Linked DNA regions of Homo sapiens: regions 1, 2, 3, 4, 5 and 6 are each linked to region 7. The links come from fine-mapping of genetic effects on gene expression. A gene starts in region 7. Each other region holds a variant in brackets. All regions are shown on one strand. Distances are between the middles of the regions. Region 1 overlaps ZDHHC11B (zDHHC palmitoyltransferase 11B (putative)). Region 2 has its middle 17 kb from the start of CEP72-DT. Region 3 overlaps TPPP (tubulin polymerization promoting protein). Region 4 overlaps ZDHHC11B (zDHHC palmitoyltransferase 11B (putative)). Region 5 holds the start of BRD9 (bromodomain containing 9). Region 6 overlaps CEP72 (centrosomal protein 72). Region 7 holds the start of TPPP (tubulin polymerization promoting protein).

Evidence for each region. PIP is the estimated chance that this variant, and not a neighbour inherited with it, causes the effect.
Region 1: its variant is fine-mapped to the expression of TPPP in whole blood (INTERVAL, PIP above 0.99).
Region 2: its variant is fine-mapped to the expression of TPPP in lymphoblastoid cells (GTEx, PIP above 0.99).
Region 3: its variant is fine-mapped to the expression of TPPP in putamen (GTEx, PIP above 0.99).
Region 4: its variant is fine-mapped to the expression of TPPP in whole blood (INTERVAL, PIP above 0.99).
Region 5: its variant is fine-mapped to the expression of TPPP in whole blood (TOPMed, PIP above 0.99).
Region 6: its variant is fine-mapped to the expression of TPPP in whole blood (TOPMed, PIP above 0.99).

Annotation. Positions count from the first base shown.
Region 1 is chr5:760,898-765,367 of GRCh38, forward strand. All of the region lies in intron 4 of ZDHHC11B (zDHHC palmitoyltransferase 11B (putative)), which reads right to left. Among named protein-coding and RNA genes, the nearest start is that of ZDHHC11B, 22 kb to the right of the region's middle. The variant A/G (reference allele first, on the strand shown) is at 2,269.
Region 2 is chr5:593,110-597,579 of GRCh38, forward strand. No RefSeq gene overlaps it. Among named protein-coding and RNA genes, the nearest start is that of CEP72-DT, 17 kb to the right of the region's middle. The variant C/T (reference allele first, on the strand shown) is at 1,962.
Region 3 is chr5:667,088-671,557 of GRCh38, forward strand. The region is part of intron 2 of TPPP (tubulin polymerization promoting protein); the gene reads right to left. It also overlaps a transcript of CEP72 not described here. Among named protein-coding and RNA genes, the nearest start is that of TPPP, 24 kb to the right of the region's middle. RefSeq lists enhancers at 1,964-2,718, 4,007-4,176. The variant C/T (reference allele first, on the strand shown) is at 2,653.
Region 4 is chr5:731,307-735,776 of GRCh38, forward strand. It overlaps ZDHHC11B (zDHHC palmitoyltransferase 11B (putative)), which reads right to left. Exons shown (of 14, transcript NM_001351303.2): 11 at 2,446-2,533. Among named protein-coding and RNA genes, the nearest start is that of TPPP, 40 kb to the left of the region's middle. The variant T/C (reference allele first, on the strand shown) is at 2,346.
Region 5 is chr5:891,722-895,721 of GRCh38, forward strand. BRD9 (bromodomain containing 9) reads right to left here and starts at 1,080. Exons shown (of 16, transcript NM_023924.5): 1 at 885-1,080; 2 at 1-133. The coding sequence starts at 936. TRIP13 (thyroid hormone receptor interactor 13) reads left to right here and starts at 1,163. Exons shown (of 13, transcript NM_004237.4): 1 at 1,163-1,369; 2 at 3,066-3,231. The coding sequence starts at 1,278. RefSeq lists silencers at 421-639, 830-1,449 and an enhancer at 449-1,081. The variant C/T (reference allele first, on the strand shown) is at 2,307.
Region 6 is chr5:637,957-642,426 of GRCh38, forward strand. It overlaps CEP72 (centrosomal protein 72), which reads left to right. Exons shown (of 12, transcript NM_018140.4): 8 at 1,133-1,268; 9 at 2,452-2,648. Among named protein-coding and RNA genes, the nearest start is that of CEP72, 28 kb to the left of the region's middle. The variant T/A (reference allele first, on the strand shown) is at 1,953.
Region 7 is chr5:690,671-695,140 of GRCh38, forward strand. It overlaps TPPP (tubulin polymerization promoting protein), which reads right to left and starts at 2,682. Exons shown (of 4, transcript NM_007030.3): 1 at 2,608-2,682. It overlaps LOC101929898 (a long non-coding RNA gene), which reads left to right and starts at 2,870. Exons shown (of 2, transcript XR_925675.4): 1 at 2,870-3,052; 2 at 3,411-4,470. RefSeq lists enhancers at 2,108-2,690, 3,604-4,470 and a silencer at 2,685-2,934.

The DNA of each region.
Region 1 (4,470 bases), 70 kb after region 7:
TGCAGCGTTCTTCTGAAACTGCTCAGCTTCAACCACACAGACCCCCAGGTGGTGGAGCAAGACACTGGTCTGGATATGCCATGATGCTGTGGTCAAGGAGATACCAGCAGCTGCCAGGAAAAGGCAGGCGGGCGCTGTGCTGACCTAAACACACCAAGAGACTCCGTCGCAACATGCCCAGAACCTCGGCCGGATTCTGGATTAAAAAATCCTGTCAAGCACATCTGGGGGCTGTTGGAGAATGTTGGCGTGGACTGCCTTGACCACGGTCCGATCACAGCCTGTCTTCTCACCTGCCATGAAGGTGCAATACAGGAGGACACCCGTGTCTGGAGGGCATGTGCTAGAGCAGGGAGGTGGGCCGTGCAGCACAGGGTTAGTGACTGTGGGCTTTAGTGACATCCTCATCCCTCACTGCAGGACACCCGGGGCCAATGGGGCTGCCATGCAGCTCTGTGGGTCTGTGGATTTCTGGGCCCTGGAGGTGGGGGAGGCCATCTAGGACCCAGGCTTTGGGGGTATGGGGACTCAGGGATGTAGGTGGAGAACTCGGAGGCTGGGCCACAGCAGAAGCTGGGCCAATGGCAGGGGATCTTGGGGAATGCCAGCAGGGCCACAGGGCACACCTTGGGCCTGGCAGAGAGAGGCCACTACTCAGAACTATGACCTGTCCTCCTGATGAGTGGAGGGGCGCAAGGCTGGCAGTGTGTGCCGGGTGGACACGTGGGTTGCCACGTTCCAGCACCTCCCATGGTAGAAGCCTGAACCCCCACATGTGTGTCCAGGCCTTAGAACCCCATGGAACCCCCACTCTGGTGACTGGGCACACTCAGGGCCTCTCAGAAAAGGCCTCTTGGGAAGTGAGCACTGCTTCCCTAAATCCCTTAGGATTGGGAAGGCCACGGAGCAGACAGGGGGACACAAAGTCTTCTACTCACAGCCCTGGACAGCCTCTCACAGACCAGACAGCCACCCCTAGCCCCAGACAGCCACTCACAGCCCTGGACAGACACTCCTAGCCCCAGACAGCCACTCAACTCACAGCCCTGGGCAGCCACTCACAGTCCTGGCTGGCCACTCACAGCCATGATGGCCACTCACAGCCAAGAGGGCCACTCAACTCACAGCCCTGGAGAGCCACTCACAGCCCTGGATGCCCACTTGCAGCCCAGACAGCCACTCACAGCCCAGACAGCCACTCATGGCCCCAGACAGTCACTCCCAGCCCCAGACGGCCACTCACAGCCCAGATGGCCACTCAACTCACAGCCCTGGACAGCCACTCACAGTCCCAGCCGGCCACTCACAGTCCCGGCCAGCCACTCACAGCCCAGATGGCCACTCCCAGCCCTGGACAGTCATGCCAGCTCCAGATGGCCACTCACAGCCTCAACGGCCACTCACAGCCCCAGACAGCCACCTACAAACAAGACGCAGGTTGCAAGAGGGATGCAGCAAGATAGCGCCCAGGATGAGTGTATGCCACAGTCAGCACCCACGTCTCTCACTAAAGCACATCCTTGGACCCCTGGCAAGGCTCTCTGTGAGACCAGCTGGACCCAGCCCATTTCAGACTTGTAGATAGGGTGTGGCCTGACCTCCCAAGGGAACTTTAGCTGCACAAGGCACCCCAAGACCCAGAGACTGAGCCCCAAATCCCCAGGGAGACACCCTTGAATCACTAAGCCAGATGGGGTGGTTGAATGAGAGGCCAAAAGCCTTACTGGCAGTGTGTATCTGTCTGTGCATGCCCGGGTCTGTGCATGTGCTCACAGAAAATACATAGCTTTAAACACACATTAAAAAGTAAGAAAGGTCTACAATCAATGACCTAAGTTTCCGTCTTAAGATGATAGAAAAAAAAGCAAAGTAAACCCAAGGTCAGTTGAAGGAAGTAGTAAAAATAAAAGCAGAATTTTTTTTTAATAGAATAAAAACAGGCAAACAATAGAGAAAATTAATAATTAAAAAGCTGACTCTTTTCAAGATCAATAAAAGGGATAAGCCCCAGGAAGACTGATGAAGAAGAGGTAGGAAGACACAAATGGCCAGGATAGTGAGGAAGGAAGGCGCAGCACTCAGACCCTACAGATGGGAAAAGGATTGTGGGAAACACTGTAAACACCTGTATTCCAAGAAATATGACAAATTACATGAAATACTCCAATTTCCTGAAAAACACAACCTATCAGCTAGGCGCGGTGGCTCACGCCTATAATCCCAGCACTTTGGGAGACCGAGGTGGGTGGATCACAAGGTCAGGAGTTC[A/G]AGACCAGACTGGCCAATATGGTGAAATCCTGTCTCCACTGAAAAATACAAAAATTAGCTGGGCGTGGTGGCACACACCTGTAGTCCCAGATACTCAGGAGGCTGGGACGGGAGGATTGTTTGAACCCAGGAGGCAGAGGTTGCAGTGAGTCGAGATCACACCACTGCACTCCAGCCTGGGTGACAAGAGTGAGACTCCCATCTCGGGAAAAAAAAAAAAAAGAAGAAGAAGAAGAAAAATACAACCTATGAAAATAGAAACAAGAAAACAGAGAAACAGAATAGCTTTTTTATCAAAGAAACTGAATTCATTATCAAAAGCCTTCCCACAAGGGAGACTGTTGCACTTGGGGAAAAATCCAGCCAAGTCTAGACTGAGGGGCCTCCTGTGGGCAAAGGCATCAGTTTCTCTGACCAGTCAAAGGCCTGGGAGCAAAACGGATGGAGGAAAGGGGGCTTCAGGGACACAGCAGCCCCATGGCACGTGGGCTCCTGATGTGAGCCACGCATCTGTAGAGACTTGTTTCGAAAATTGGGGAAATGGCCACATGGATAAGAACGAATACAGGATGTTAAGAAATGGCTATATAATTTTTAAGTGAGATATTTTTAAGTGAGATAAAGCATGGTGTTATAAAAATAAAAGTTTGTTAGACACAAACTGGAGCATTTACAGGTGAAATTTCCCGATGTCCGAGATTTTTAAAGGTTACTCGGATACACATGCATGTGAGATATAAAACAAGGTTAGCAAAAGCTTCACTGTTGAAGCAGGTGACTGGCACCTGCGGGTCCGCTTGACTGTACTCTCTACCTCTATAAACTGAAAGACGCCACAGGAACAAGTTTCAGGAAAGAGAGACATGGCCTTGCCCATGGCTGAGGCACTCAGGCTGGCAGGCTGCTGTCCTCATGGCACCTGCTCACTCTGCATCCAGCCCCTACACCTCCCTGCCTGCACCACAGCGATACACACCACGCTCACCATTTACCAGAGACTTGCCCGGGATGGCCCAGCCCAAGGACCACGCAGTGGTGTTGAGAGGTGACAGCACGCTGGCAGCCCTGGCAGCCCTCGCTCACTCTCGGCACCTCCTCGGCCTCGGTGCCCACTCTGGCCACACTCGAGGGGCCCTTCAGCCCACTGCTGCACTGTGGGAGTCCCTCTCTGGGCTGGCCGAGGCCAGAGCCGGCTCCCTCGGCTTGTGGGGAGGTATGAAGGGAGAGGCACAGGCGGGAACCCAGCACTAGTTCGGGGTGGGCATGGGCTCAGCGGGCCCTGCACTCAGAGCAGCCGGCCGGCACTGCCGGCCCCGGGCAGTGAGGGGCTTAGCACCTAGGCCAGCAGCTGTGGAGGGTGCGCCAGGTCCCCCAGGAGTGCTGGTCTGCTGTAGCTGTGCTCAATTCTCACTGGGCCTCAGCTGCCTCCCTGCGGGGCAGGGCTCAGGACCTGCAGCCCGCCATGCCTGAGCCTCCCCGCTGCCATGGGCTCCTGCGCAGCCCGAGCCTCCCCAGTGAGCACCGTCCCCTGCTCTGCGGCACCCGGTCCCATCCACCACCCAAGGGCTGAGGAGTGCGGGCACATGGCACGGGACTGGCAGGCAGCTCCACCTGCCCCCGGTGTGGGAGCCACTAGGTGAAGCCAGCTGGGCTCCTGAGTCTAGTGGGGACTTGGAGAACCTTTATGTCTAGCTAAGGGACTGTAAATACACCAATCAGCACCCTATGTCTAGCTCGAAGTTTGTAAATGCACCAATCAGCACTCTGTATCTAGCTAATCTGGTGGGGACTTGGAGAACCTTTATGTCTAGCTAAGGGACTGTAAATACACCAATCAGCACCCTATGTCTAGCTCGAAGTTTGTAAATGCACCAATCAGCACTCTGTATCTAGCTAATCTGGTGGGGACTTGGAGAACCTTTATGTCTAGCTAAGGGACTGTAAATACACCAATCAGCACCCTATGTCTAGCTCGAAGTTTGTAAATGCACCAATCAGCACTCTGTATCTAGCTAATCTGGTGGGGACTTGGAGAATCTTTATGTCTAGCTAAGGGATTGTAAATACACCAATCAGCACCCTATGTCTAGCTCGAGGTTTGTAAATGCACCAATCAGCACTCTGTATCTAGCTAATCTGGTGGGGACTTGGAGAATCTTTATGTCTAGCTAAGGGATTGTAAATACACCAATCAGCACTCTG
Region 2 (4,470 bases), 98 kb before region 7:
TTGATTTCTTTTCCTGTTTAATATTTAAAGATGCACTGTGGGCCATGTGCGGTGGCTCACACTTATAATCCCAGCACTTTGGGTGGCCGATGTAGGTGGATCACCTGAGGTCAGGAGTTTGAGACCAGCCTGGCCATCATGGTGAAACCCCGTCTCTACTAAAAATACAAAAATTAGCCAGGTGTGGTGGCGTGTGCCTGTAATTCCAGCTACTCAGGAGGCTGAGGCAGGAGGATCACTTGAACCAGGTAGGTGGAGTTTGTAGTGAGCTGAGATTACACCACTGCACTCCAGCCTGGGTGACAGCGAGACTCCGTCTCAAAAACAACAACAAAAACAAAAAGACACACTGTGCATGTCCCTGGCCCAGGGCAGAAGTCACAGCCCAGCCTGTTGCCATTAGACACTCTGTTCCGTGACATGTCCCACGAGTCCCACACGTTGCCGAGGCCAGATCTTTACTGACCACTGGAGCCACCTTATGGCCTCAGGATGTGGCTTTGCTGGCATTCCTGTGGAAGAGGCACTGCCCCATCCATGTGCCACCCTGTGCTGTGATGGGGAGCCTGGCTGCTGCACTCACACTCGGGGTGGAAAGCAAAGCCCGACCCCTAATTTAGCCAGTGGGACTCAGGAGCAGGCCATTCACTTGTTCAATTCTGTCCATACTGAAGAGACGCCGGGCCCCTGGCAAGAGGCTACAGAGCCTCTTGCTTCCCTCAGAACCTCTCCTGGGGATAAGTTCCTGTTGTCCCTAAGTCAGCAATGAGGCTGAACCAAAAAGCAATGTGGCCAGGCCAGGGAAACCTTCTCTTTACGGCCAAGAAGTGGGGACCTGCATCTTTGGCCAAAGCAGACTTATGGGATTTAAGGACAAAGAGGCTAAATACACAAAGAAAAGGTGTGTGTACGTGTTTCCTAGGACTTCTGTAACAAATTATTGCACACCGCATGGCTGGAAACACTGGAAGTGTATTCTGTCACTGTTTCAGAGATGAGACGTGTAATTCAAGGTGTCCACAGGACCATGCACCCTCCAAAGGCTCCAGGGAGGAACTTTCCTTGCCTCTTTCCCTTTCTGGTGTTGTCCACAATTCTGGGTTGTCCCTGGCTTGTGACAACATCACACTATGCTGGCCTTCCTTCTCTGTGTGTCTGTGTGTCCAAATTTCTCTCTCTTATAAGGGTGTCATCATTAGGCTCACTCCAGTCCAGTGTGACCTCATCTTATTTAATGACATCTGCAAAGACCTGATTTCCAAATAAGGCACTGGGTGTTGGGATTTGGACATACCTTCTGAGGGGGAACTCAATCGTACCCACAACAGTGTGCTTCCTCTTTTGGATACACTGGGGATGGTTCCCTCTCTCTGGACCTGATACTGCTCTTTCCCCAAAGGCCACTGATTAGTCAACATGCTCCCTGGGGCTCATGTCAGCCAAGGAGGGCAATTGATTTCCAACCACCTGTCAACATCTGCTTTACCCCCTGGGCTGAGAGCTGAGTTTCCCACAGTGACAAGTAGGTGATAAAAGACAGGTGTCCAAGTGTTTCCTGGAGAAAAAGCACTGGTTTAACTTATTTAATTAGTTCCAGAGAAGCAGTCAGACAGAAATGACACATCCCCTACAGGGCACAATAATCCCGGCTGCAGTTTCTCATCAGATGCTGTGCAGACCAGGATGTGGAAGAACATTGAAAACAAGAAACCAAAGGAAGCACCAAGCCAGAGTTGTGCATCTGTGAGAATTTCAGAAATGGAGGAAAAATCGATGCAAGAATACCCTTCAGAAATGAAAAAATCGACCGAAAATACCCTTCAGAAATGAATTAAAAATCAACACGAGAATACCCTTCAGAAATGAAGGAAAAATCAATGCGAGAACACCCTTTGGAAACGAAGGAAAAATCGATGCGAGAACACCCTTCAGAAATGAAAAATCAACGTGAGAACACCCTT[C/T]GGAAATGAAGGAAAAGTCGACGTGAGAACACCCTTCGGAAATGAAGGAAAAATCGACGCGAGAACACCCTTCAGAAATGAAGAAAAGTCGACGCGAGAACACCCTTCGGAAACGAAAGAAAAATCGATGCGAGAACACCCTTCGGAAACGAAGGAAAAATCGACGCGAGAACACCCTTCGGAAATGAAAGAAAAATTGATGATCTCCAGTGAGGACGCACTAAGAGAATTTGTTGCCGGCACACCTGCTTTAAAAGATGCCAAAGCAAGTTCTTCAGCTTGAGGGAAGATACAGAGGAAAACCCACAACCCCAAGAAGGAAGAAAGGGCAAGACAAGCAGTAAATGTCCAAGGAAACACAGCACACTATTGTTCTCCTCTTTACCCCAAGTGACTTTTCTTGCTCTGAATCTATTTTGTCTCACATGAATAGAGCTGTTTGAGGATTTTTGTGTAACTGATGTTGGCCTGATAGCTCTTTTCCCATCCTTTGACTGTGAAACAGTCTGTATCATTACATTGAAAATGAGTTTCTTGTAGACAGCATGTAGATGAGTCTTTAAAGTACATATGATGGTTGAAAGCAACAATTAACAACATTGCTTGGTTGAATTTTCAATATGTGCAGGTGCAATACGATGACTGTGACAAAGGGCACAGTGAAGGGGCCTTGGTGGGGACAAGGTCCCAGCATTCCAGCCAGAAGTGGTAAAATATTAATTCTGCATAGACTGGCAAGGTGAGGAGGAGTTAGAATGTATATTGCAATCCTTAGAATGACAATACACAGAGATAGAATTCAAGAAACCATTAGATAAATCAAAATGAAATACCACAAAATATCCCAATAATCCAAAAGAAGACATGCAAAGGGGAAAAGGAGAAAAAATCAGAGGTGCCAAATAGAGGACATGCAAGAAATGCTGGACCTAAATTCAGACACATCAGTAATGAATATAAATGTAGATGATCTAAACATACTGATTAAAGGCAGAAATTATCAGACTGGATAAAGGCAAGTCTTATCTACAGGCTGTCTATAAAAACCCTCTTTAAATACAAAATATAGGCAGATTAAACATAAAAGGATAGAAAAAGATATGCCAAGCAAACACCAATTAAAAAAACTGGAGTGACAAAGTAGATTTCAGAGCAAGGAAAATTCCTAAGAGTAAAGAGGGACGTTGCATAATGACAAAGGATCAACTCCCCAAGAAGACCTAGTAATCCTAAACACATATGCACCCAACGATAGGGCTTCCAAACACACAAGACAAAGACGATAGAGCTGCCTGAAAGGGAACAGGCAGCTCCATACTGGAATTGGTGACCCCAACATTCCCATCTCAGTTGGTTAGGGCTGCCATGTCAAAATACCACAGACTGGGGCCTTAAAGGGCAAAAATTTGTTTTCTCACCATTCTGGAAGCTGGAGGACCAAGATGAAGGCTGTTGGGGTTGACTTCTCAGTGTTCTCACATGGTATTTTTTTGTGCTGGTGTGGAGAGTGAATGATTCCTGGCTTCTTTCCATCTTCTTGTAAGGACATAAGTCCTATTGAATCGGACCCCCTCATATGACTTCTTGCAACCATAATCACCTCCTTACAGGCCCTGTCTCTAAATACAGTTACATTGGGGGTTAGGGCTTCAACATGTGAATTTTGTGGGACACAATTCAGTCCATAACAACTCCTCTCTCAGTAGCTGATAGAAAAGTGGACAGTAAATTAGCAGGATATGGAAGAACTGACCAGCTCCAGGAACCAACTGGACCTAACTAACATTTATAAAACGTTCTGCCAAACAACATCTACATACACTTTCTTTTTGGTCATAAAATGCATGTGAAAAAATTTAAAATACAAAAAACCTACAATGGTGTTAAACTAGAAATCAATAATATAAAAATGCCTAGAAAACCTCCAAATAGGTGGAAATTAAACAACACACTCCTTAGACAATGCAAATGTTGAGGAGAATGGCTCAGAAAAACTGGAAATCACTTGAACTGAATGAAAATGAAAAATATAGCAAAATGAAACAGTGCTTAGAGAGAAATTTATAGAACTAAATGCTTATAGCCCTACAAGCATTTAGTTAGAAAAGAAATGCTAATATTAAAAACAGAAGAAAATTATAAATCAACAATCTAAGCTTCCACCTTAAGAAATTACGAAAATAGGAGCAAATTAAACTGAAAGCAGGCAGAAGGAAGGAAAGAATAAAGATAAGAGAAACCAATGAAATAGAAAACAGAAAGACAACAAAGAAAAATCAATAAACTAGAGGCTGGTTCTTTGAAAAGATCAGTAAAATTGATAAAGCTTTAACCAGACTGATTAGCAAGGGAGAAAGAGAGATAAATTTCCAGTATCAATAATGAAAGAGGATATATCACTATTGACCCACAGACATTAAGAGGGCAATGCACGAACATTATGAGCTACTCCCTGCATATACATCTGACAACTTTGAAGGAATAAGCCAATTCTTTAAAAGCCACAAAC
Region 3 (4,470 bases), 24 kb before region 7:
CCTTTCCAGAAGTCAGTGAGCAGAGGGCCTAGAATAGCCAAAACGATTTCAAGAAATGAGAACAGAGTCAGAAGACTGACTACCCAACTCCAAAGCTCATCGAGGCTTGACTGCAAAGTGGCAGCGACGTGGGCACGGGCACGCGGCCAGCCCCGCAGCCCAGGGGGAGTCTGGCTCAGCCACATGCATGCTGCCCCCCCGATGTCTACAGGTGCAGAGGCAAGCCAGAGAGAAAGGACTGTTTCTTCCACAAGTGGAGCTGGAGCAACTGGTGATCCCTGTGCAAATTAAAATGCACTTTGGTCTATACTGCACACTATATACAAAACTAACTCAAAATAGATGACGGTCCTAATTATGAAACTAAAACTTCTAGAAGAACACCAAAGAGAAGATCTCTGTGACCTGGGGTTAGGCGAAGATTTCTTAGAAATGGCAACAAAACATGGCCTATAGTGGAAAAAATGGATGAACTAGACTTCATCAAAACGTTCGAAACTCTGCTCTCAGAAGACACCGTTAAGGGAATGAGAAGACAAGCCACAGACTAGGAGACATGCCTGAGAAAGGACTTGTCTCTGAGATACACAAAGGAACCTTAAAACTCAGCAGTAAGAAAAAAAATCCATGTGAAAAGACGGGCAGAATATTTGAAGCAGACACCACCAGAGAAGACACGTGCATGCAGACAAGCACACGGAGAGGGGTCCGCGTGGGCCCCATCAGGGAAGTACAGACAAGCACACGGAGAGGGGTCCGCGTGGGCGCCGTCAGGGAAGTACCGACAAGCACACAGAGAGGGGGCCGTGTGGGCGCCGTCAGGGAAGTACCGACAAGCACACAGAGAGGGGGCCGTGTGGGCGCCGTCAGGGAAGTGCGGACAAGCACACAGAGAGGGGGCCGTGTGGGCGCCGTCAGGGAAGTACCGACAAGCACACAGAGAGGGGGCCGTGTGGGCGCCGTCAGGGAAGTACCGACAAGCACACTGGAGAGGGGTCCGCGTGGGCCCCATCAGGGAAGTACCGACAAGCACACGGAGAGGGGTCCGCGTGGGCCCCGTCAGGGAAGTACCGACAAGCACACGGAGAGGGGTCCGCGTGGGCGCCGTCAGGGAAGTACCGACAAGCACACAGAGAGGGGGCCGTGTGGGCGCCGTCAGGGAAGTGCGGACAAGCACACGGAGAGGGGTCCGCGTGGGCGCCGTCAGGGAAGTACCGACAAGCACACAGAGAGGGGGCCGTGTGGGCGCCGTCAGGGAAGTGCGGACAAGCACACTGGAGAGGGGTCCGCGTGGGCCTCGTCAGGGAAGTACCGACAAGCACACAGAGAGGGGGCCGCGTGGGCGCCGTCAGGGAAGTGCGGACAAGCACACGGAGAGGGGGCCGCGTGGGCGCCGTCAGGGAAGTGCAGATGGAAACCACAGCGAGGCCCCTGCACACTCTCCAGGGGGCTCAGACAATCAAATAAACTGCCGGCACCTCGAGCTGAGCAGGCCGCGGGGTGGGGGCCTCGTCCACACCCGGCCGAGCAACGCGGCAGAGCCACTGTGGACAGCTTCTCATCACAGCCAAAGGTGGCCCAGCAGTCCCGTTCCTGGGTCCTTGCTCAAGAGAAATGAAAACAGAGGCTCACACATAAACGCAAATGTTTACCACTGTTCTGCTCGTAGTCACCAAACCCCAAACAATCCAGTGCCCTTCAGCAGCGGCCAGACCACAGTGCTGTGATGTGTGCGCACGTGGACAGCACCCCCACCCCTCGAGAACAAGCCCAGGATACGCACCCAACGCGGTGGGTGCCAAGTGGCCAGGCTTGGAGCCAGGCACGGAGGTGCCGCTGGGTGATTCCCAGACCCCAAGGCGGATGCTGTGTTTAAACAGCACCTGAGGGTTCCCATACACTTTACACGCGTGTCCTAAAGACACAACAGACACCATCAACAGCGCTGAGCCAAAGAAGAAATCGCGCTGAGAAACACACCAAGTGCTCGGGGTCCCACAGCTCAGACCCTCACGCCTCATGGGGTCCCAGGGAGGGGAGCGGAGGCCTCGCTGTGTCCGGAGGGGGCTTTGGGGAGACAGAGCCCCAGGGCGGGGCCTGGACTGCTGAGGGCAGCCACGCAGGGCACATTCCAGACCCGCCGGCCATAGGGCGCTGTTGTCCAGCAGCATCCCCCAGGGGGCGCTGGTGAGCCCGGTGAGCCGGAGGTGCCCTGGGCAGCTCTGTGGCGTGGGGGTCCGCGGTGTTGGGGGTGGATTTAGCCCCTTGACGCGCTCGGCGTGGACACCCGCACGTTCCCTGTGGTGCTAGAAGAGCCAGGCCACCCCAGGCAGCCCACAGTGCCTGGAACTGACAGTGCCCATTGGGCCCTGTGGGGGTGTTGACTCTCTGGGGCCCTTGGGGCCTCTGTCTGTCCTGGGCCGTCAAAGGCTCTCCTGTCTTCTATTCCCACCCTGCCCAAGCTGACATGCGGACGCCAGGCCTGACTGCCAGCCTGGTGACCAGTGCTGAGGCACGCAGCCCTTTCTGACGGCCTCGGAGCCAGGCACCACCAGCATGAGTCACTCGGCGGGAGGGGGATGGCTGAGGGGCTCCCCCATCAGAGGCGACATTCAGATCCGGACACCTGCTCTGCGCGCTCCCCGAGTGTCT[C/T]GGGGAAAGGGCGCCCGGGTCTCTGCCCCACACGGGCGGGGAGCTCTCCCCAGGAGACCCGGGTGCCCCCCGCCTGGGGCAGTCCTCAGGAGTTCTAGGACAGCGGTGCCTGCCTCTTCCCCAGAGACACTCAGTCTGGCTGCCCGGCTCTCCTGACATAGAGTGGGCCTGTCCTCCAGAGACCAGGGTGCTGGAGGAGCCTCCGAGTGTGGAGCTCGGCATCCTCATTGCCCATGCTCTCCCCAGCCCGGCGCCCTGCCCCAAAGCCGGCCCAGCAGGACGCAGCCGCTGCTCATACACGATGCCCTGCGGGGCCTGGACTTGCTTCCCAGGCTCTGAGTCCCCTGGCCTCTGGGCCTGGTTCAGTCTCTCAGGGACACTGGGACCCGGCCTGGGGCCTCCAGGAGCTGGGCTCAGGCCAGGACAGCCCTCCGAGGACTGAGGCCTGTTCCTCCGGGGCGGACGTCACAGGCCCCGCTGGGCTCGGGACTGTGCATCCAGCACCCTTGTGAATCAGGAATGCCCTCCCATGGTGCCCTCTCTGAGGGGCGGGGGCCGGCGGGCGAGGTGACAGCTACCAGCTCCCCTGGGCTCTCTGGGCCTGCAGCTGCTGTGGCTGGAGTGCCCTGTCCAGAGGCTGCCACAGGTGGGAAGCTGGGGGCTGTGGAGGGGAATCTCTGGGGAAACAGCCTCTCCCTGTACTTAGGCGAGTCTGAGAGAGAGGGGCTGCGGCTCCCCCAGGGCACCAACCTCTGGGATCTTCCATTAGCCCCTGAGACCTGAGGAGGCTGGGAAGGACTCCCTGGCTGCTGGGCCCCACGGGGGGAGGGGGAGCTTCTGGGGAGGTTCCTACCTGGTAGGGACGCGGCCTTAGGGGAGCCCTGTCTGGCATCGCCATCCTGCACGTCGCTCCGAGTTCTCACTGCTCCAGGAGGGTCCAGTGGTCCCGTTCCAGCAGGACCCAGCCTTGGGGTTCCCCATGCCTGTTGGCCGCCCCTGCCTCCCGCAAGCCCCAGCAAGATACAGAGGACCTAGAGCAACGTTTCCCGGGGCCGACAGAGGTCGGTGGCAAGCCCTCCAGGCCCTGCCTATTCTCCCCTCATAAGTGACTCCACCAGCAGCTGAGCACCTGGGGGCAGGTGAGGTGATGTCTGGCCACCTGAGAGGGCTTCTCCCCTCATCTCAGGAAACCGGAGCCCTTCCTGCACCCTACTTGGCTCAGAGGATGGATGGCAACGTCCACTGGGCCACGGCAGCTCAGGCCCCAGGGCGGGCTGAGGGCCAGGGCCCTCCCATTGCTGCACCAGCTCTAACCCCAGGCACACCCACCATGAAGCCCCCACACAGCCGGTCGGGGGGCTGCCTGAGCTCCGGAGGTCTGGCTACCGAAGGCTCCCCCCTGCCTGAGGGGCCGCCTGGGATCAGCGCACTGTCTCCCTCTGGGCGCACACCCTGCGCTTGCTGCTAATTAATTTTGCGTTGCTGCCGGCCTTTTCGTTTTCCTGGGGAGGGGCGGGGGTGGGGCGTGTGTAGTCACCGCCCTGTGGACATCACTAGGAAGAGGTGGCCCTTGGTGGGACGTGGACTTGGGGCCCAGAGGGACCCCGGGCAGATCTGAGGGGCCCGACCTTCTCTAGGGGGCCCCAGGGGCTCGGCTGCCTCCATCCACCCCAGTCTCGGCCTGGGCAGGGCTTTGGTCTGTGCACCTGAAGTCAGTTTCTGGCTGTTTGTTTGGAGATCACCTTCTCAAATGACCTGTGTTGCCTGGTCAGGCTCATGGGGCAAAGTGGACAGCCAAGGCCACGCCCACCACTGGCC
Region 4 (4,470 bases), 41 kb after region 7:
TGGCCTCAAGGGATCCTCCTGCCTTGTGGGCCACCCAAAGCTCTGGGATTTCAGGTGTGAAGCTTTGTGCCTGGATGGTACCCTTAATCTGCTTTCTTGCAGCTACTCTAATGGGGTGCAGCAGTATCTTATTGTGATTTTAGCTGGTGGTTCCCTGGTGGCAAATGATGTTGAGCACCATTTTGTGGGCTTTATTTCTCATGGATATTGTTGCCTTGGTGAAGAACGTGTTCAATCTTTCACCCATTTAAAAACTGAGCTGTTGTGTATTTTTGAGTTTTCATGGTTCTTTAAATATTCTGGATAAAAGTATATGACTTGTAAATATTTTATTTCAGCCTGTGGCTGATATTTTCATTCTTTTACTGGTGACAATGGAAGAAACAATTTTAAATGCTTAAAGTCAAATGTATCCGTTTTGTGAAATAGTGTTTTTGGTATCTATCAAAGAAGAGTTTGCCTAACACAAGACTCCGGAGATATTCTAGGATTTTTGTAGGAATGTTAAAGTTTCCCCCTCTTACTATGAGGTCTCTGATGGATTGTGCACTGCTTTCTAGGTGGGACTGAGCTGTGTGTGTGTGTTTGGCATGTGGTTATGCAGCTGCTGCAGCACAGTCATTACAAACCCTTCCATGTCTCCCCATTGCCTCACCTTGGCACCTTCCATTTAGGCCAAACACCAGAAATGTAAAGAAGGGCTTGTTTCTGGAGTTTCCAGTTTGTTCCATTCATCGAGTCAGGGTGTCTTCTTTGGACAATGCTGTCTGCAGCCCTGGGCCCACTCGAAGGGGAGGCGATGGACTGTAGGTCTGTGGAGCTCAGCACAGGGCTGTGCCACGGACTTGGGTGTCAGTGAAGTCACGCTCATTTTCAGACGGAATTCTCCTCCCCGATGTGAACAATGAACCGACGGTGTCATTTTCATAGGATTGTCCTGGAGCCCACGGAGATGCGGGCTTGGGATTCAACGTGATGCTGAGCGGATCTTCTCTGCTTCAGACCAGGCCTCATGTGGCTTCACTATTCATCCACACATAGATGCTGCAGAGACACCGAGGGGACTCACAAATGCACCTGTGCAGAAGGTGTCAACGTGGACAATCGCAGGCAGAGAAACTCCCATGAGCCCGTGTGCCACATGCAGTGAGGGAACTTTGGTGGCTGAGTCTGGGCGGGGGTGGGCTGGGGGCTCGATTGGTTTCCACTGAGTGTCTCCAAATCTTTGCTGGAAGTGCAGGCAAGGGGCAAGTCTTGGACACCAGCCTCACTGTTCCTCCAGGTTGGGTGATCCATTTTCATTTCCAAGTCACAGGAGCCTGTTCCCTGAAATCCTGGGGAAGTGCGGTGAGGCGGCCCTGCCCCCACAGGGAAGGACAAGTCACCTGTAACCTCCAGAAACTGGCCCCCTCACAAATCCTGCTCAAAAGGACCAGCCTGTGGCCTGGCATGGAGGCTCACGCCTCTAATCCCTGTGCTATTAGAGGCTCACGCCTCTAATTCCCCTGAGCCTGGGGAATCACTTGAGACCAGAAGTTCCAAACAAGCCTGGACAAGAGAGTGAGATCCCATCTCTTAAGAAATAAAAAACAAAAAATAAATTGGCTGGGTGTGGTGGCACACACCTGTACTTTCGGCTATTCGGGAGGCTGAGGTGGGACAATTGCTTGAGCCCAGGAGTTGGAGGCTGCAGTGAGCCATTATCCCACCACTGCCATCCATGTTGGGTGATGGAGTGAGATCTCATCTCTAAAAAATAAATAATGACCCAGCAGAAACCACTGGAAGCTGACCCCAGAGCAGGAACAGAAATATGTGGCCCTAAAGCCGGCAGCCGCGCTGGTCTTTTCCTGTGAAGGATGGACACAGAGTCCATGTAACAAACACACACCATTCACACACATATACAACTGACCACACACTACACACAAAACCACACACATAACCACACCCCCCCACATATGTGCAACCACACACCATACACTTGTACGTGTGACCACACACACATCGTCTATTCCCATCTGTCTCCCACACACAGTCCTTCCTGAGCATTTTATTTTAAAAACACAGCATGTGGCTTCTGCCATGGCTACCAATCTCCTTCCATCCTTTATCACAGCACTGTCCCTCGCTGCATGTTCTGGGCACTTCAGACCCTGCCCTGGGCATCTGCCCATCACCGCAGCTTCTTGGTGGTGCTCCAGTGCTGGGGGCTCCCACTTTGGTACCCATCTGTCTCTGTCACCCACAGCTGGGAAGCATTCCTGCCTCTCACTCCATCTCTCTTCTGTGCTCCACCCACCATCATTCCCATGTGAGCAGCACCCTTGGACACAGAGTGCTTC[T/C]ATTCTGAATACTGCCTTAACCTCAGCTTGGGGGACCCGAGACCACATATTCTGCACACGGCCCTGTCCTCAGGGTGCATTGCTGGTGACTGCAACTTACCTGTGCCTTCGAATCCCCGTCCTGGTTTACTGAAGTGCAGAAGTGACATGGGCATTTGTAAATCAGCAGGGAGCTCTTGGCCTTGACTCTGGTGGGACAGGAAGGAGGAGAGAAACTCATCTCAGCTTTGTGGGGGGGCTCAGGGTGGCACTGGAGGCTGCACCGCGTCGTGTCAGCACCACTGCTGTGGGGCACACATGTCTCAAAAACTTGTAGACCAGCAGCTCCTGGGAGGTTGTCTAAGTACTCCTGCGTTATGTGCAGTGGCACACGTAAGAAGCTTCTCGTGTAAAGGACCATGACTCTTTGCCACTGGGACAATGCAAAGCAGTCCCTCCACCCACCGTGTGAGACTTGCCCTACACCAGTGCCTAAGACGGGTTCTGAAGAGTGATGGCAGATGGGAGACAGGTCTGATATGCAGCTCCCACATGGAGAGACAGAACAGCATGTGGAGACTCATACTGTGGCCTTTCACTCCAGGAACCACCACAGCAGCATACCAGAAAAAACAAAAAGTCACAGAGCCTTTGGAAGATGCCATAGGCCACTGCAAATTCCACAGAACAGGTGACAACTCCGCTGCTGTCTCAAAAGTGCCACCTCCTGGCTGGAGGCCAATCAGCTCAGGACATGACAGCAACTCATGACAGAACAACCCTGCTCCTAGGAAGGAGAAAACAAGAGCTTATTCCACCTCCTGCAACATCCTGGATAACCAGAGGTCCTGAGTCTGCCCATGTGACAACTTCACTGCTAGAATAACCAGCCTCTGAGAAAGTCAGCACAGTAAACCTATCGGCCGCCGAGGACCTCCACAGAGTCCACTTCGGTCCCCTGTCACCTCCACCGGAGCAGGTGCTCGCATCCACAGCTGGGAGACCTGAGGACGGATCACATCACAGGACTCTGTGCAGACATTCCCCAGCACCAGCCTGGTAGCCCTGCTGGGTGGAGAGACCCAGAAGAACAATAGCAATCACTGCTGTCTGGTTTGCAGGAAGCTCCATCTCTAGGGGAAGGGGCAGTGCACAAATCAGGGACCACCCCATGGGACTAAAGAATCTGACCAGCAGCCTTGAGTTCCAGATTTTCCCACTGAAATAATCTACACACATGAGAAGGAATCAGACGAGTAATCCTGGTAATATCATGAAACAGGGCTCTATTCCACCCTCAAAAGACCACACTAGCTCCCCAGTGAGAGATCCAAACCAAGAAGAAAATCAGAATTGCTGGAAAGAATTCAGAAGGTTGATTATTAAACTACTCAAGGAGATACCAAAGACAGGTGATAACCAACTTAAAGAAATTTAAAAATCAATACAGGATATAGATGAAAAATGCTCCAGGGAAATAGAGATCCTAAAGAAAACACAGTCACAACTTCTGGAACAAAAGACACACTAAGAGAAATGGAAAATGCACCAGAAACTTTCAACAGCAGGATCTAACAAGTAGAACAAAGAACTTCAGAACTCAAAAACAAGGCTTTTTAAATAACCCAGCCAGACAAAGAGGAAAAAAATAATTTTAAAAAAGAACAAAGCCTCCAGGAACTTAGGGATTATGTTAAACAGCCAAACCTAAAAATAGTGTTCCTGACAAAGCAGACAAATCCACAAGTTTGGAAAACTTATTTGAGGAAATGATCAAGGAAACCTTCCCTGGCCTTGCTAGAGTTCTAGACATCCAAAGACAAGAAGCTCAAAGAATGCCTGGGAAATTCATTGCAAAAAGATCATCACCGAGGCACATGGTCATCAGGTTATCTACAGTCGACACAAATCAAAGAATCTTAAGAGCTGGGAGGCAAAACATCAGGTAACCTCTAAAGGAAAACCTCTCATATTAGCAGCAGATTTCTCAGCAGAAACTCTACACACTAGAAGGGATTGGGGTCCTATCTCTAGCCTCTCCAAGCAAAATAATTAACAGCCAATAATTTTGTATTCAGCAAAACTATGTTTCCTAAATGAAGTAGAAAAAATGTCTGTTTCAGAACAACAAATGCTGAGAGAACTA
Region 5 (4,000 bases), 200 kb after region 7:
CTCTCTCGCTCATGGTCTGACCTGTCATCATAGTAACTGGAGTCGTGGCCGGATCCTGAGAGTTCAGTCACTTCACTTCCTCCGACCTTCAGGACTAGCTTTAGAGGCTTCTCCAGGGGCTTGTCGGCATAATCTGCACAGACACAGACCGAGTTCTACCCGCGTGCTCAGGTGCAAACGCCACGCAGCCAGGTGAGACGTGAAGGTGCTAAGAGGGAAAGGCCTCCCTAAGGAGTACAGCGGGGCTGCCAACCAGCAGGGAAAGACGGAAGGGAAGACCACAGTGGCGGCATGTCACTGCCTCCTTGTTCTCCCTTCCCCTCCGCAGGGAGCTTCAGGTCCCTTTCGAGCCACGGTGTCCTCACCAGAGGCCCTGTGGGATGTTGTTCACATTACTCGTTCAAGAAGATGGATTAAGAGGGACCTGGAACCCCGGAGCCCGATCTCCCTCCTAGAAACCCCCAGCACTTCGGTTCACCCTCGCCTGACTTCCTGCAGGCGCCCGTGCTGCCCGCTGACACCCATGGAGCTGCTGCGGGAGCAAGGGAGAGGGAGGGAAAGGCGGGAGAAAGGGCAGCCCAGCTTCTCCCTGAGCTCCACACAAAAGCCAGCACAGATGCTTCCCTAGTCTCCAGGACCGGGGTGAGTGGGCTTGCAGCCTCGAACCCAGAACCCTCTACCAGGAACGTAAGCGCCTACCCAGGACCCCTCACGTGTGCCCGGTTCCCTGCCCGAAATCCCAGGACCCCCTCCCGCGTGCCCAGAACCCCTCCCTCGTGGCCAGGACCTCGCCCGGTGCCCAGGACCCCCGTCCGCGTGCCCGGAACTCCTCCCCCGTGCCCGGGACCCCGCCCGCCGCGCGTCACAAAGCGCCGCCGCCTCACCCTCGTAGGACGAGCGCCACTCGGCCTTGTGCTTCTTGTGCTTCTTGCCCATGGCGGCGCCGGCGGCGGGCCCGAGGCGGGGGCTGGGAACAGCTGGCACCCGGTCGGACCTTGGCCGCCACCGCCCCCTGGCCCTGGCTGGCCGCCCGCGCTCGCTGCGCCGAGGTTGCCGAGCTCGCTGGGCCGCGCCGGAAACGGGGCGAGGCGGGGCCGCGGCAGGAAGTGGCCCTGCCGGGCCCGAGCGCTTCCGGGTCAGGAGGTGGTGCGCCTCGCGCGGCAGATTCGAAGCTAGGGCGGGGCCCGCGGGCTGAGGCAGCGGCTGTGGCGGCGACGCTGGGCGTGAGGTGGCGGCGGCCGCGCCCTGGTTGGGTCCCCACTGCTCTCGGGGGCGCCATGGACGAGGCCGTGGGCGACCTGAAGCAGGCGCTTCCCTGTGTGGCCGAGTCGCCAACGGTCCACGTGGAGGTGCATCAGCGCGGCAGCAGGTGAGCCGGACCTGTCCGACACATCCTCTGGGCACCCACCCGCCCCGACCCCAGCGCGTGCACCGAGCCCCGACCCCAGCGCACTGATTCTGATGCGACCGAACCCCAGGGTACTGATCCGGCCCGACTGGACCCGGGCGCACAGGCCGCCGGGCCCCGACCGGATCCTAGCGCAATGACGCGACCCCACCGCAGGGCACTGACCCGGCCGACCCGAGCCCTGCGCGCAGGACCCCAGCTCACAGATTGAGCCCCGACCCGACCTCAGCTCACGGACCTGGCCCTGACCCTGCCCCTGCCCCGGCTGTCCTCCAGTGCATTGATGTGGCCCTGAGTCCCACGTTGGAGAATAGGATGGCTGCGCATTACAGAGAGCTCTAGTCTCAGCCGAAAGCTGGGTGGTTATTCTTTGAGCCACTGCTTCTCAGACCCTTTAATTGTTCCCGTTCCTCACGGACTCGATGTTAAATTTTTAGGGTTCAAAGCACATCCCACTCATTTGTGACCAAGTCAGTTCATGGTATGGTGGGGCCTGTGGGCTGTGCTGCTCCCTGGAGTGGGGGGAACTCAGCGGCGGGGCCAGACCTTCACAGACCCTCCTTATGTCCACGGAGGGTGGATTGAGGTCAGGTGAGACCACCAGCCTCAGAGGGGATGCAGAGGAAGAGACCTTTCCTTTAACAGAATAGCTGTTGACTGGGTATTTTCTAGGTGCTGGAGTTCAGACACGTCAGCATAATTGCACCAGGGCCCAGAGACACCTGCACAAAGCCCCATCACAGCCTGGCGACACCTGTGTAAACACCTTAGCGCTCAGAGACACCTGTACACAGTGCCACCGCAGCCTAGAGACACCCCATGTACAACCACACCTGGGCCCAGAGACGCTAGGCATAATCACACCAGAGCACAGCTGCACCTAGAGGACAGACACCTA[C/T]GTACAACTGCACCAGAGTTCATAGACACCTGCACACAACCGCACTATGCATGGTGGTCGCTGCTTGTAGGGTGCTGGGACGATTGCAAAGGGGCCACATGTCACCTGCCTGGCTCTGAGGAGCCTGTCCAGGAGGGCTCAGAGGGAGGCAGACATTGAATAGGACTTAGAGGGTGACTGCAGTTGATCAGGCCAGTAAGCTGGGACAGTGCATAGCAGGGCACAGAGGTGTGATCCGGGACCAGGTCACTGTTGTAGAAAGGGGAGGTGTTAGGAGGACTGCAGCAAGGGGGACCAAGGGAAGCCCTGGATACCAAGCTGAAAGCATTAGATTTTCTCAGCACGAATCACGGCTATTGGAGACTTGTTACAATGCAGACCCCAGGCCTGACCCCACAGCTGTGGAACTTCATTAGTAATAGTGAAAGCCAACATTATTGCGTGCTTACTATGTGCCAGGTATCGTCCTAAACACTTTGAGTGTATTAATGACTTCACAGTAGCCCAGCATAGCGAGAACTCTTACTGTTGTCCCCTTTTTCTAACTGGGAGCTGAGGCACAGCTTCTTCAGGGCACAGCTGGTAGAGGACCCACAGGCAAGGGGTGGCTCTAGATTTGGTCCCAGGCAGGCCAACTCCAACTTACCCTGTTAACTACTGGGCTTTCTTATGTATTGTCTGAGTTTTTCAAAACACTTCATTTTAACATTTTGTTTTTGAACTAAGATCATTTATGTGTGTTTTGGCTTCTTTTTTTAGCACTGCAAAGAAAGAAGACATAAACCTGAGTGTTAGAAAGCTACTCAACAGACATAATATTGTGTTTGGTGATTACACATGGACTGAGTTTGATGAACCTTTTTTGACCAGAAATGTGCAGTCTGTGTCTATTATTGACACAGAATTAAAGGTTAAAGACTCACAGGTAAGTTACTAATTTGCTGGGCCAAGGAACAGTTAGCTGAATACAAAAGGTTGTATCATGAATGTCTTGCCGTTTTCATAGCCTGTTGTCAGAAACAGGTTCACTTCTCTGTTGGTTTGGGTGGCTAGACAAGTTCTTTTCACTAGCTGTCAGGAGCCAGGTGCTGGGAGTAGGAAGTAGCCCTGATGTCGGGGTGCTCTCAGTATAGCAGTAACAGATTGGAAACCAGGAATGAGAATGCAGTGCTGTACAATAGTGGGCTGCGCTGGTAAGGCCTGTGTGCCATGTCTCATTCTTTCAATCAGCAAATGTTTATAAAGTGCTCAGTGTGTGCTAGGACCATAGGAGGTGTGGGGCCACAGAGATGAGAAGATGGGCTTGCCTTATAGAATTCCTTTATCTCATCCCATGCATGGCCACCTCACCCACCATCTGAGTTGATGCGTATGGGTTAGAGGAGCTTTGTGTGAGGGCGTGGAGGCATTGGGGCGATTCTGGCACCAGTATAAAAACAACCTGAAACATTCCTAAGGAAGACTTATCACTTACAGCAGTACAATTCCTGTCCTGTAAGAACCAGCTGTGAAGGACAGGCTTGGTACTAAGTTCTGCTCGTGAGGTGGACCTCCCCATTCATACGTTAGGACTCATGTTTGTGCATGCTCAGAGCTTTGTGCACACTGAGATCTGATAATGCCGTGGTTTTGGCCAGTCTGAGGGAAGGAAGAGCTTCCCACACTGTTGTGGAGGGATGGACACCCTAACTGGA
Region 6 (4,470 bases), 53 kb before region 7:
GTGATTACGCCTACGGCACTGACCGTGTCCCTCCCTGATGCGGGGCTGTTACGGCTTTGGCGGTGCCGTGATTACGCCTACGGCACTGACCGTGTCCCAGGATAAAGGGAATCATCACACTTAGGGTTCCAGGGTGCTTGCTGCTGCGTTTTGTTGGACGTGTGCCTCTGTGCCACACGCTGTCCTGCGCTGCTGTTCTGAGTGGAAGCCCCGTGGTGGAGAGAGGGGACTCTGCCTTACGGTGCACAGGGCATTTGTCTCCAAAGCTGGAATCGGGCATCTTGGCCGGCTGAGCCATTGATGACCCTTTCGTGAGGGGAGGATCCTGGAGGTCGCTGTGATGAGAGACCGAGTCACTCCACCCTCAGGGTGACCTAGAGGTCAGGGGGACAACTGGCGCAGGCCCAGTCAGAGGCGTTGAGACACACCTGCTGTAGACATGAGTGCAGACCACCCAGAAGGGAACAGGCAGGGGCTGTTCACTTGGTACTTGCCACAACGAGGGCTTCAGACTCCCATGCAGGCAGAGGAGCTTGAAGGTGCGGAACTGTGGGACAGGAAGGGAGGCATGGCCGGAGCTAGAGGCAGCTCCGTAGCAGCATGGGGTGGGGGGGGGTCCCAGAGCTGGGTGGGGCGTGTTTGACGTCCCCGGCAGGTCCTGAGCTGGAAGGAGGCAGAGATGGGGGAGGTGGGCGGTCTGTTTCAGGGTTATTGTTTGACTCCGGGCCATTGCTGGGGACAGCGCCTGGCACCCTCTACCAGCCTGACTGTGGGTGCAGGCTGCTTCCTGGGCAGCTCCTTTTGAACACAGGCTCTGACTGCGGCCTGGATGTGTCTTCCGCTTCCCTGTCTGGGTTGAGGGGAGGAGTCTGGGGCCTGCTTGAGTTGGGAATGTGTGGGCCCCGTCCTGTCCTGTCATCGAGACCTCACTCATCCAGGACCGGTGCACCTGGCTAAGCCTCACTGGGCAGGCACTGCTGAGCCGCCCTCCACCTGGCTCAGGGCTGGGGCCTCAGGGCACCTGTCCTCCCCTTCGTGGTGCGAGGGCATCCCAGGGTGCGCTTGGGCACCTGCTGGCATTCAGGACCTCAGTTACTGACTCGCTGGCCTCATGCTGTTGTTTCCATCACAGCCGTCTCCCGGGTCACACTCGGCTCTACCCGGGAAGAAGACGGCCCTGCAGGCGGCGCTCCTGGAGACGCTCTTGGACCTGGTGGACAGGAGCTGGGGCGGCTGCAGGTCCCTGCACAGCAACGAGGCATTCCTTGGTGAGTCAGGGCGGCCACTGCTCTTGCCCTGTAGGCAGCGTCTGTGTGGGTTCCGGGGTCCTCTGCGTGTGGTGACCTAGGAGTCATCTCAGCCCCAGGTCTCCTATGTCCCCTCCCACGAGCGTGTGGTGGTCCCGCGCCTGGGCCCTCCCTGGCAGTCTTTGCATCTCACAGTGTCCAGGGCTCTCGGGAGACACCACATGGGCCTGGGCCTGTGGGTCCCCCGCTGTGCTCTGGGGTGTTGGGGGGCCTGTCACCTCATTTTGCTCAAAATGCTGTCCAAAGGGGCTTGGTTCTGATGGCTGTGATCACATGGGGATTTGGAGTTTGGAAGCTGCTCAGCATCTTCTCCCCCGACCCAGACGTGTAGCCTGTGCTGGGCCTGGATTGCAGAGCTTTTGGTTGGTGTGGGACCCAGGAGGGTGGTCCCTCCCCAGAGAGGACTTGGGTCTGTTGGATTCTACCAGGCAACCCGTACATGAGCACACTGGGGCCTCCCTCATCCAGGATCACACTGGGAGACCAGGAGATGCCGCGTCCCCAGGGGCACCTTCTCTTTGTCCTGCATCCTGGGGTGTGGCTGTGTGTGTCCCTCAGGAGCCTAGCCAGTGTGCTTCTCCCCGCAGACCCTGGGCACGGCTCTGAGCTGTCTGACTGCGCCTTGCAGTGTTATAGCCCCTCAGC[T/A]CCTAGAATGAGGACGCCCTGCAGTCGCAGCCCACCTGGACCCCAGCCCCATAAACCTCCCCTCTCCCTAGGCTGGTGTCCTGTGGGAGCCTCCTGAGCTTGCCATCGTCGGTGGCGGGGGGACTGTCCCAGGCCCAGGCCACTGTCCCAGTGTGGAGTTGCCAGCTGTCGTCTGCATGGTGGTTTCCACACAGGGCAGTCGGTGCTTGTGGAAGGCGCAGCGAGTTGTGGCGGCGCCACTGAAACCTTGAGACGTGGCGGCCCCTGGTTGCCCCTTTTCTTGGAGGTCACCTCTTCTCTTTCTTCAGTTCCCACCCTGCCCGTGTGTGGACGCACAGAGCCTGAGGTGGTTTTGTGGCGCCAACACCCCTTTCCCCTCTCCCTACCTGTCGTCTTTTTGAGGCATCGTCTGTGTGATTCAAAACATACTGAGCCGATTTTGTTTACATTTCATCCTTTAAGCCTAAGTGCTAATGTAATATTTGGTTTTCACTCCTAGCTCAGGCAAGACACATCTTGTCATCTGTTGAAGAATTCACAGCAGCTCAGGACAGCTCTGCGATGGTGGGTGAAGATGTCGGCTCCCTGGCTCTGGAGAGTAAGTCCCTGCAAAGCCGCCTTGCTGAGCAGCAGCAGCAGCACGCCCGGGAGATGAGCGAGGTGACGGCGGAGCTGCACCACACACACAAGGAGCTGGTGAGCCCGCCCTGGCGCTGTGTCTGTGTCCATGTGACTGGGGGAAACATGGCTCTGACTTCCAGGAACGAGGGCAGCTCCTTGATGCCACACTGTCCCAACTGCCATCTCTGCAGCCCCATGTCTCCACTCCCTGCCCGGGACCCGGCCACCCCCGGAACGCGGCCTGCCCTGTCTCACAACAGGCCTGGAGCACTTTGGAGACAGCAGTGGCGCTGGCCACCTTCTCTCCCCGGGCCCAAGGGACCCTCCACCACTGGGCAGTGCCGGGTGCTGCAGGAGCCAGGCCTGGACGTGACTTTGTCTTGCTGACCCATCTCTCAGGGCCTCGAACTGGGGAAAACCGAGGCCACTCTCCTTTTATGAAGGAGATGACGGCCAGTGTCCCATGGTGAGCTGGGGCTACAGGGCAAGTTACCCCAAAACCAGCAGCTGAAAACCTGCATTTATCACCTTGGATTTCTGTGTATTGGGCCTCAGGCTCAGCTCAGCCAGGCTCCCTCCTTCCGTCTCAGCCGTGGGCCGGGGCCGCCGTCTCATCTGAGGCCTCATGGGGGCTCTGTCTCAGCCGTGGGCTGGGGCCACCGTCTCATCTGAGGCCTCACGGGACAGGATCCTCCCAGGCTCCCTCCACGCTGCAAGGGCCTCCCCACGGGCTGCTGGCATCCTTAGCACAGGGAGCTGGTGGTCAGAGAGCCACACCCAGGCAGAAGCCGCCCTCCGGGAGTCCTGGTGTGAGGGCAGAGCCACGTGAGGATGTGCACATCCAGAGGGGCCTTGTCAGCATCTTTAAATTGCGAGTGAAGTCGGCCCGGGACGGCTTCGAAAACTGCCTCTGAACTTGTCTGACAAGTACATACTGTCCGTTTCATGGGAACCAACATCTCAGAGATCCCACACAACGCTTCCTCTTTAGAGAAGAAAAACACAGCAAAACAACACAGGCAGCCTCTGTTTAAACGCACGTGGCCCCCCCACCCCGCCTGGAAGCCTCTGCACGTGGCCTTCATCTGGAAGCCTCTGTATTTAAACACATGTGGGCCTCCTCCATCTGGAAGCCTCTGTATTTAAACACACGTGGGTCCCCATCCCCCGTCCAGAAGTCTCTGCATTTAAACACACATGGCCCCCCATCCCCCATCCAGAAGCCTGTGCATTTAAGCACACGTGGTCCCCCGTCTAGAAGCCTGTGCATTTAAGCACACGTGGTCCCCGGTCCAGAAGCCTCTGCATTTAAGCACACGTGGTCCCCCGTCCAGAAGCCTGTGCATTTAAACACACGTGGTCCCCCGTCCAGAAGCCTGTGCATTTAAACACACGTGGTCCCCCGTCCAGAAGCCTCTGCATTTGAACACACGTGGTCCCCCGTCTAGAAGCCTGTGCATTTAAGCACACGTGGTCCCCCGTCTAGAAGCCTGTGCATTTAAACACACGTGGTCCCCCGTCTAGAAGCCTCTGCATTTAAGCACACGTGGTCCCCCGTCCAGAAGCCTGTGCATTTAAACACACGTGGTCCCCCGTCCAGAAGCCTCTGCATTTGAACACACGTGGTCCCCCGTCTAGAAGCCTCTGCATTTAAACACACGTGGTCCCCCATCTAGAAGCCTCTGCATTTAAGCACACGTGGTCCCCCGTCCAGAAGCCTCTGCTTTTAAACCAACGTGGCCCCTCCTCTGGAAGCCTCTGTATTTAAACACACATGGCCCCTCATCTGGTGGAAGCCTCTGGATTTAAGCACACATGGCCCCTTCTCTGGAAGCCTCTATATTTAAACACGTGTGGCCCCCCGTCTGGAAGCCTTTATACTGAAACACACGTGACC
Region 7 (4,470 bases):
TGTGGCGCTTTGGCCTTTGTGCCCACGGAAGCCCCCTGCGGCCCCTCCCTCCGGGCCCTGCCCAGCCCGGTGCACGAACCCTGTTTACCGATTCCCAGGCCTAGGGCAGCCACTGCCAGTGTGAGGCTTGCAAATTAGGGTAGGGGGTCAAAAGGAAGCCCCTGTTGACCATTTCTGTGAGCATTCTATGCTCATTTCCACAACGAGCATTTATAACCTCGTATAATCGCTAAAACATTTATTGCAACTTCAGGGAATTCGGGAAGATAGACCAACCGCAGCTGTAAGATTAAAACGCAGCCAGTGACCAGCGGAGCTTCCTCCACGCACACGCGGTCCAATCCCCATGACTTCATGTTTTGTGAAGATGCAAAGCGAGTTCATGCCGGCGCCTTTCTGAATCAGAGATCCGTTTAGAAACCATGAAAGCTGCAGACCCCTCCCGGGAAAACGCACACACCCTCCTGGAGCTCGCCTTCTGCAGCCGCTCCGGGAGCCCGCCCCTCCCCCACAGGCCCTCCGAGGATCACGTGGTGGGGAGGCGCTGGCACCGAGCGGCTGACAGGCGCGAGAGCCCAGTTCAAGGCGGCGGCATCAGGCTGCAGCTGCCTCACTCCCCTCCACTTCCTGCCCCTTCCCGGCCTTGGTCCAGCCCCATCTCCTAGTCCCAGGCCACAGGGAGCTGGGTCACCTCCCAGGGGCAGGGGCTGGCTGGGCGTGGGGGGAGACCTCTCCCCCTGAGAAGTCAGGCGGGGAGGGGTGGCCGGGGTGGGCGGAGGGGCCCAGTCCTCTATCGGTCCCCCAGGGGCCCTGCAAGCAGAAGAGCCAATAAACATGCCAGGTGGATCAGCGGTGACACTGAGAGGGAACGCAACACCCCATCAAAACAGCAGCCCCCCAACCCCCATCAAAACAATAGCCCCCAACCCCCATCAAAACAGCAGCCCCCAAACCCCATCAAAACAGCAGCCCCCAACCCCCATCAAAACAGCAGCCCCCAAATACCCATCAAAACAGCAGCCCCCCAAACCCCATCAAAACAATAGCCCCCAACCCCCATCAAAACAGCAGCCCCCAACCCCCATCAAAACAGCAGCCCCCAAATACCCATCAAAACAGCCCCCAACCCTCATCAAAACAGCAGCCCTCAACCCCCATCAAAACAGCAGCCCTCAACCCCCATCAAAACAGCAGCCCCCTAAACCCCCATCAAAACAGCAGCCCCCCAAACCCCCATCAAGACAACAGCCCCCCCAACCCGTATCAAAACAGCAGCCCCCAACCCCTCATCAAAACAGCAGCCCCCAGACCCCATCAAAACAGCAGCCCCCCAACCCCTATCAAAACAGCAGCCTCCCAACCCCTATCAAAACAGCAGCCCCCAACCCCCTATCAAAACAGCAGCCCCCCTAAGCCCCCATCAAGACAGCAGCCTCCCAACCCCACATCAAAACAGCAGCCCCCCAGACCCCATCAAAACAGCAGCCCCCAACCACCTATCAAAACAGCAGCCCCCAACCCCTATCAAAACAGCAGCCCCCCAACCCCCTATCAAAACAGTAGCCTCCCAACCACCTATCAAAACAGCAGCCTCCCAACCCCCTATCAAAACAGCAGCCCCCAAACCCCTATCAAAACTGCAGCTCCCAACCCCCTATCAAAACAGCAGTCCCCCAACCCTATCAAAACAGCAGCCCTCCAACCCCCTATCAAAACAGCAGCCCCCCAAACCCCTATCAAAACAGCAGCCCCCAACCCCGTATCAAAATAGCAGCCTCCCAACCCCTATCAAAACAGCAGCCCCCCAAACCCCCATCAAGACAACAGCCCCCCCAAAACCCTTATCAAAACAGCAGCCCCGCCACTGCCCGGGAGGGACAGGCTTCTCACCTCCCTCGGCTCCGTTTACGTAACCGAAACCGCAGAATAAAGGGCTCCTCAGATCTTCGGGCGCTGCTCCCAGGGGTGCGGGAAGGTGTCCCGGCAGCGCCTCTCCATCGCCACAGGCCCGCGGACAGTAGCCAAGACCCGGGGCAGCTGGAGGCTCTGCGGGGGGCGGTCTGACAGCCCCACCTGCCAGGACGCGGTGGTGTCAGGACCCTGAGATGGGCCGTTTCTGTGGCCAGGGATCTCTCAAAACCTGCTGCGGGCAGTGACTTCATTCCAGCCCTCCACGCCCTAATTTCCCACGCCTCACACCGGCGGCCCCCTAGGCCTGGGAATAGGGAAACGGTTCGAGTCCCGAGCTGGGGAGGGTCTGGAGGGAAGGGCTGCAGGGGCGTCCGTGGCCGCGAAGAAAGGCCAAAGCGCCAGGCACAGGGCCCGGAGACGGTGACAGACCTGTCCCTGGCGCGGCCGACGGTGACCCCCGCTCGCGGCCTTTGCAAAGCCTCCCCGTCGCGTCCTCGCACCGAGCCCGCAGCGCCGAACTCCGGGCATCCCAATCCGGGGGCTCAGGGACGCGCGGGGCGGTCCGGGAAGGGGGCTCGGGGGAGCGCGGGGGGCAGGGGCTGCGGCGCAGGTGGCTGCTGGGGCTGACGGGCCCAGTCTCCGCCCCCGGGTGCCCCCCGCGCCGCGCCCGCGGGACCGAGCCCCGCGCCCGCTTACCTTGGAGACGCAGCGACTGCAGCGGAGGCGCCTCCGCGACTCGGCCGCGCGCGACCCGGTGCTCAGCGGAGCTCTCCAGCCGCCGCCCCGCGCCCGCCCGTCCCGCCCAGCACCGCCCAGCCCCGCCCAGCCCGGTCCCGGGCCCGCCCCCGGCCCCCAGCGTCCGGCGCCCGCCCAGCGTCCCGCCCCGCGCGCTCATTGGCAGCCCCGCCCCCGCCGCCCCACCCGGCCCGGGGACGCGCGGGCGCACCGAGACCTCTGCCTTACAAGGCCGACTCTGCTCAGGCCCCGCGGACCGCCGGGTATCCGCTCAGCGCAGGGCGCGGCCGACCCGCGGGTCGTGGGAACCGCTGGGCAGGGGGCGGCGGGGCCCCTCACCTGGCTCTGGGGCCCCCCGGGGACGACCGGACCCCGATCTCTCCGCCCCGCAGGACGCGCGTTGACGGTGCGGCGGGGGATGGATGAGCGCGGCCGCGGCCTCCTGGGGTGGGGTGGGTTGGCGGCGGGGCCTCGAGGACGGTGCGGGGCGAGCCCCGACCGCGCCCAGTTCTTTAAGGAGCCGCAGACGGTGCAGGGAAGCGGCAGGGCCGGGCTGTGAGGGTGCTCGGACCCCAAGGCGGGGCGCACCCAGGGGACTGGGCTTCCAGGTGGGGGCAGCGCGGCCGGGGATCGACCTGAGCAGGGAGACGGGTCCGTGCCGGGCGCCCAGCGCAGCTGCTCGGGAGTGGGCCGCCCTTCACGCAGGAGTGGAGGAGCGGAGCGCGCACCCCTGACCCCGGCCTCAGCTTCCGTTCTCCCTGCAGGTCGCCCGTATGCAGCGCCACCATCCCGGCCGCTCTTCCAATCTCGCCTTTCTCCGGGCACCTGCCGCCCCTCCCCCGCTCCCCAGACAGGCTTTGCGGAGGGGGCTCATTCCGCCCGGGGCTGCCCGGCCCTCCGCAGGAGTTGGCTCCCCACAAGGTTCCGGGGCCGAGATGACAGGGCGGTTCTGTGGTGCTGGGTGCTGGGACTTGAGGGGCATAGGGGCACCTGCCCTGGAGGAGGCCGAGGCGCAGCCCCCCAGGAGGAAGGGGTGCCTCTGGTGACTTTCAGCTGGACTCTTCCAGCTGGACTCTAGTGCAGCTGAGCTCCTCCCCCAGCCCCGGCTCTGTCCCTGCACCAGGTGTCCAGCAGGCCCTGGAATCCGCAAAGGCAGAAGGGGAAGTTGGGGTGCTGGGTGCTGGGCAGGGGGTGCTGAGGCCTCACAGCCCGGCGGCTTGGCCCCCACCCACCCCACGGTGGTCCCGCGCCCCACACTTCCTCTCCTCTCCTGTGGTTTCTCCTTCCACTCAGTGCTGCCCAGAGATGGGCTTCTGTCTAGTTCTCCTGAGAAATTCCACACTCGCAGCTGGGAAGTCGGGGGACCCCCGAAGCTGTGCGGCGGCCACGCTGCGGCTCCTGCTTCCCTCCTGCTCGGGTGCGGGCTCGGCTGCCTTCTCGTCCCGCGGAGCCCGGAGTGCCTCCCCCTCGGGTAGATCCTACTAACAGCATCAAAGAAATAATGAAATAATCTCTCCTTGGTGTGTTCTTACCGTCCTAATAGGCACAAGGGGACTCTTCAGTGCATTTTCCAAAACCTGTACAAACTCTCTTGACATAAATGCAGTGAGTTTACAATAAAATCGCAGTGGGAGGTAACGTCAGGCTTCAGAGGCAGACATGGTCCTGGAGCCTTTGGGAGGAGAGGAGAGGAGAGGCAGCGGGCGCGGGGCGGCGTCCAGGGGGCTGAGCGAGGTCTGGGCAGGAGGACAGAGCTGAGCCTTGGGCTGCCCTGGCCCCTGCGCAGGACACACAGTGACCGGGGCTGGGGTGGGCACCCCGGTT